2 separate regions of the Homo sapiens genome follow, and region 1 is linked to region 2. Evidence: fine-mapped expression QTL. A gene starts in region 2. The other region holds a variant in brackets. All regions are shown on one strand. Distances are from middle to middle.

The links. PIP is the estimated chance that this variant, and not a neighbour inherited with it, causes the effect. A credible set is the group of variants that fine-mapping cannot tell apart.
Region 1: its variant is the best candidate, but not a certain one, in a credible set for the expression of PCAT6 in whole blood (TOPMed, PIP 0.51).

Annotation. Positions count from the first base shown.
Region 1 is chr1:202,774,892-202,777,806 of GRCh38, reverse strand. It overlaps KDM5B (lysine demethylase 5B), which reads left to right. Exons shown (of 27, transcript NM_006618.5): 2 at 713-790. Among named protein-coding and RNA genes, the nearest start is that of KDM5B, 32 kb to the left of the region's middle. The variant T/ATT (reference allele first, on the strand shown) is at 1,251.
Region 2 is chr1:202,809,616-202,812,530 of GRCh38, reverse strand. It overlaps PCAT6 (prostate cancer associated transcript 6), which reads right to left and starts at 1,577. Exons shown (of 2, transcript NR_046325.2): 1 at 1,161-1,577; 2 at 619-956. It overlaps LOC124904583, which reads left to right. Exons shown (of 3, transcript XM_047439549.1): 3 at 972-2,293. The coding sequence ends at 1,496. RefSeq lists a silencer at 1,481-1,710.

The DNA.
Region 1 (2,915 bases), 35 kb after region 2:
TTAAGGTGGGCCAGGCTCAGTGGCTCACACTTGTAATCTCAGCACTTTGGGAGGCAAAGGTGGGAGGATCATTGGAGCTGTAGAGTTCGAGACTGATCTGGGCAATACATGTACCTACACCTCGTCTCTAAAAAAAACCTTAAACAATTAGCTGAGTGTGGTAGTGTTCACCTGTGGTCCCAGATACTTGGGAGGCTGAGGTGGAAGATCGCTTGAGCTCAGGAGGCAGAGGTTTCCACCAGCTGTGATCACACCACTGCACTTAAGCCTGGGCAACAGAGTGAAACCTTATCTCAAAAAAAAAAAATTAAAAAAGTTAATGTGACTGGAAGGTTAAATGTGTTTTTTAAAGTTATAGACATATAGCTGTTATATAAAAAATGAGGTATGTCTATGGTAATACAGAAGTCAAAGTGTCTTTTGCCTAAATGAGTGTTTTTTTTTTTTTTTTTTTTACAGGCTCAATGACATTGCTCAGTGGGAAGGTTTGTGGGGAGAGGTGTATATGTGATATATCATTTATTTGGGAAAGGGTGTTCATACATATTTTGCTGCTCTCATGGACAAAAGGTTGAGAAACCACTACTCTGTGTTCTATTTTGTTTGATTGGTTAGAATAAGATTTACCTAACCTGGGTTTTAATTTTAAAACAAATTTTTGAATGTCAAATGCTTATAAGTTATTCTAATAAGAGCCTTTGCTTTCTCCTAGGATTGGCAGCCACCATTTGCATGTGATGTTGATAAACTTCATTTTACGCCACGTATCCAGAGACTGAATGAATTGGAGGTAATGTCTTCACTATTGTTCTGTTTGCCTGTATTCCAGGGGGACCGTCTTTGAAATTATTACGATATATTAAAATTGTTACAGAATCACCATTGTAAATCTGTTTTTAGATTTGTATTTGAGCAAATAAGAACATTTCTTTCTGTAGAGAACAGGTCTTTAAAATATCGAATTGGCTAGGCATGGTGGCTCACACTTGTAATCTCAGCACTTTGGGAGGCTGGGGCAGGAGGGTTGGCCTGGGCAACATAGCGGGACCCTGTCTCTGCTAAAACATAGTTTAAAAAATTAGCCACGTGTGATGGTGTGTGCCTGTAGTTCCAGCTACTCGGGAGGCTGAGGTGGGTGGATTGCTTCAGCCTGGGAGGTCAAGACTGTAGTGAGCCATGGTTGTGCCACTGCACTCTGCACTCCAGCCTGGGCGACAGAGCAAGACCCTGTATTTTATATATATATATAT[T/ATT]TACATATGTGAAGATACACACACACAGAATTGTGTTTTTGTTGTAGGGTTGAGGTCTCCCTATGTTGCCCAGGCTGGTCTCAAACTCCTGGGCTGAAGCGATCCTCCTGCCTCTGCCTCCCAAAGCTGGGCATATAAAAGCATATTTACTTGCCATATAATTTTAAACACTTATATGGAATTGTGCTTACAGTACTAATTAAGTTCCTTTCAGAGTGCCTGCTTACATCACAGGAAGGTTTACTGAGTGTTTAATTCTTTGTCTGTCACGTGGTAGGGGCTGAATTAAATTTTTTAAAAAAGTCAATTAAAATTTTTACTTTTTTTGTTATGGAGTCCCGCTCTGTCACCCAGGGTGGAGTGCAGCAGCATTATCCTGGTTCACTGCAACCTCTGCCTCCTGGGTTCAAGTCATTCTCCTGCCTCAGCCTCCCAAGTAGCTGGGATTACAGGTGTGTGCCACCAAGCCTGGCTAATTTTGGTATTTTTAGTAGAGATGGGGTTTCACCATTTTGGCCAGGCTGGTCTTGAAATCCTGACCTCAGGTGATCTGCCTGCCTTGGCCTCCCAAAGTGTTGGGATTACAGGCATGAGCCACCATGCCCAGCCTGAATTAAATTTTTGTTGAGTTAATGTATGTGTGTGTATATATTATATATATATATATATATATATATTTTTTTTTTTTTTTTTTTTTTTTGAGACAAGAGTCTTGTTCTGTCACCAAGGCTGGAGTGCAGTGGCACAATCTCAGCTCACTGCAACCTCTGCCTCTTAGGTTCAAGTGATTCTCCTGCCTCGGCCTCCTGAGTAGTTGGCATTACAGACGTATACCACCACATCCAGCTAATTTTTGTATTTTTAGTAGAGATGGGGTTTCACCATGTTGGCCAGGCTGGTCTCAAACTCCTGGCCTCAAGTGATCTGCCCATTTTGGCCTCCCAAAGTGCTGGGATTACAGGTGTGAGCTACCACACCCGACCATGTATAATTATTATTTTTTTATTTTTCTTTTTTATTGAGACAGAGTCTTGCACTGTCACCTGGGCTGGAGTGCAGTAGCATGATCTTTGCTCACTGCAACCTCCACCTCCCAGGTTCAAGTGATTTTCCTGCCTCAGCCTCCTGAGTAGCTGGGATTACAGGCCCCTGCCACTACGCCCAGCTAATTTTTTGTATTTTTAGTAGAGACGGAGTTTCACCATGTTGCCCAGGCTGGTCTCGAACTCCTGACCTCGTGATTCACCCGTCTCGGCCTCCCAAAGTGCTGGGATTACAGCCATGAGCCACTGCACCCAGTCGTATAATTATTATTATTTTGAGACAGAGTCTTACTGTCTCATCCAGGCTGGAGTACAGTGGTGTGATCTCAGCTTACTGCAACCTCTGCCTCCTGAGTTCAAGCAATTCTCCTGCCTCAGCCTCCTGAGTAGCTGGGATTACAGGCACGCGCCACCACACTAGGCTGATTTTTGTTAATAGAGATGGGGGGTTTCATCATGTTGGCCAGGCTGGTCTCGAACTCCCGACCTTGTGATTCGCTCGCCTCAGCCTCCCAAAGTGCTGGGATTACAGACGTGAGCCACCGTGCCCGGCCGGCCATGTATAATTATTTAACCAGCTTTATTTTGTGTATTTTTGGCCGTTTCTCACTGAATTTAGAAA
Region 2 (2,915 bases):
CTCAGTTGGGCTGAGTCATCAGAGAGGGATTCCAGGACAGGAGAGGAAGAGCAGATGGGAGGAGGAAGAGGTATTTATTAGTTACCAGGTGGCTCCCAGGACCCAGACCCAGCTTCCCAAGAACAGAAACCCAGAAATGAGCGCCTGGTCAAGGTGTAAGCTGTTCCCCAAGGGCAGCCCCGACAGCTGGGGCTAAAGCAGAACAGTGAGCACAGAAGTCCACCATAAGGGACCAGCTCAGCAGTAGACGATAGCATAGGAGGGGTTGCTGGTTCCCGGGAATTAAGCAGGGCAGGGAATGGGGGAGGATGGGTTTATCTCACCTGTGGTGCCCACCCATTGTGGAGGCTCCCTCAACACCGTTCTGAGCCTCCTTCCTGCTTCATGTGGTCAACCAGATTCTTCTTTGTCCAGCCCAAAGCTCCATCCTCAGCCAATGGTAGCCACAGAAACTCAAGGCCATTTACCCTCCCTTTCAACAAATATTTGTGGAGCGTGTGCCACGTGCCTGGTGCCAAGGAGAGAGACATTACTTCTTCCCTCTAGAGGCTTACAATCTGGCAGGAGAGGAATATGTATGGGGAGAGTGCAGGGACACCGCGGAAAAAAGACAAATACTGAGTTATAAGTGTTGTAATAGGGGGTAGTAACAAGACGTTGTAGGACTACACAAAATAAAACAAGGAGGCCAAATCGCAAGCGTTTGTGGGTTTCACAGGGGACATCTGACAGCAAACATTCCAGGGCACCGAGAGATGGTGAGGAGAGATGATGGCATTGAATTGGAGAGATGAGCTGAGATGGACTGCGCAGAGGACGAGGGAAAGCCGGTGCACTGGAGACTGGGGGAGACGAGAGGATCCACCGGGTTGGGAGGGGAAGGGTGGTGGTAGAAGCACGAGCAAGGCAGAGACCGGAGGCCAGGGCGGAAGGGAGGCTCACGGACACCTGGAGCCCTGAAAAGTTGTCAGAGGCGGCGAGGGGGTGGGGAGCGGACCCTACACGTGCGCTACGTGCTGCGCCGGCCGCTGGGGAGCCCGGTCTGCCCCCCTCATCCCAGAACCCGGTCCCAGGGCAGTTGCACGGCGCCCAGGGGGAGGGGAGGGAGGAAGTCCCCCCAAGTTTGCAACCCGGCAGCGTGGTCTTCGCAACGCGGTTACCGGAAGGAACGCGAGGAGCGCCTCATCACCAGGCGGGTGTATCTAGGGGCGAAGGCTGCAGATCTGGGGCGCAGGCTGGAAAGTGGGGTGCAGCCGGTTGACGTGAGGTCTGGGAGTTGGATGGACCGAATGAGGATGGAGACACCTAGGGATGTGTCCGAAGGATCTGGCGCTGCACAAATGAGGGCGGTTTGGGGGACGGAGGCCCGGGCGGGGGCGGAGTGTTGTCCAAGAGTAAGGAGGGGGTTCCTGGAGACGTGGCACTCGGAGCGGGGCTGGGTTCCGCTCCGGCCGCCTGGGCTGCAGCTCCGCTATGGCCTAGGAACCCGAACCTGACCCCGCCTAGGCCTCGCACCCAGCCCTCTGGGAGCTCCGGCCCCGGCACCTCCAGGCTGGGGTTGCCCAGGTCCGGCCTCTGGGGCGTCCAGCCGGCCCTAGACGAGACAATGCGGCCCGGGCCCCGCCCCCGGAGGATGACGCGCCCGGCTGCCGGCCAGTCAGCGCCCGTGGCTAGGCTCTTTAAAAAAAGAAGGGCCGGCGCGGTGTGGCTGTCAGCTGGGAGGGATCCCTCCGCCCATGTAAACATCATAAAGGGCAAGGGGAGCGTCTGTTGTGGGCGGGGGAGCGGCTGCCTTCCCGGAGAGTCCTCTCGGTCCCTAGGTTCCCCTCAAGACGCCGGCAACCGCCCCGTCCCTTAACGTCACACCGGGTCTGCTGGGAGCCAAACAGCTGCGGCCTGATCTGGGAGCGATAGAATCTCATCACTTAGGGTCACTACCGGAAATGGAGGAAGCCGGACTGGGAGACCTTGAGAGTTGGGAGCGAGAGGGAATCGTAGGACGCAGCTGAGAATTGGGAAAGATTTTCTTAGGCTTGTTCTTCCTGTCCATCTCAGTTAAATAATAATCATAACTCATGTAAGTCTAGAATTTGTCTCAAAGTTATGCCTACCTGGCTCGTAGGATGCCAACGTTAGGAGTGAAAATAGTCAACGCTCTCCCGAGAGAGCACATGACACTACATGAGCTTCATCAAGACCCTCGGAGGCCCAGAATGCGCACCAAAGAGCCATCGACGATAATTCTTCTACCCAACTTTTATTTAGTATTATTAAATATTCAGTAAAGTTAAAAGAAATTTGCATCAAATTCCTCTATACCCACTACCTAGATTCTATTATAACTTGCCACATCGCATATCTATCTTGCACTGATAATTCTTTTAATAGTGTATTAGCTGTCCCCTGGGCTTGACTCTCCATTGCAGTAGGGAGCAGGAAAAGACTCCAGGTCCCAAAGCCCTGGAGAGCTAAGAAAAGGAATACGTTCTCCCAGGACCACTGTGAACTCTTTCCTGGGCCCGGTACCTCTGGGAAAAATTTGTTGAAGGGAAGGCGGTTTTCTTCTCCCCCCACGCCCATCCCCCCTTTTAATTGAAGACTTCTTAAGCATAAGAGATTTCCTTCCACTAGGTGAATCTGAAAGCGAACTAAGATCTTGACAAACATTCCTTGCATACGTTTGGCAGCTTTCTGGATGAAAGAGGTCATTTCAATGTTGACGTTCTACTTTTTGAGCTTCCTCCTTTTTTCTGAGGCTGCTGGACACTACCCCCCCACCCCCGTCCCCCGTCTCCCGCCAAAAGAAAAAAGGCGCCTCAAAAGTGTTCGTATCTCTTAAAGTTCGTTAACCTCTTTGCCTCCGTTGCCTGCTCTGCAAAATGAGGATAATATCGTACCTACTCAATATGGTGGTT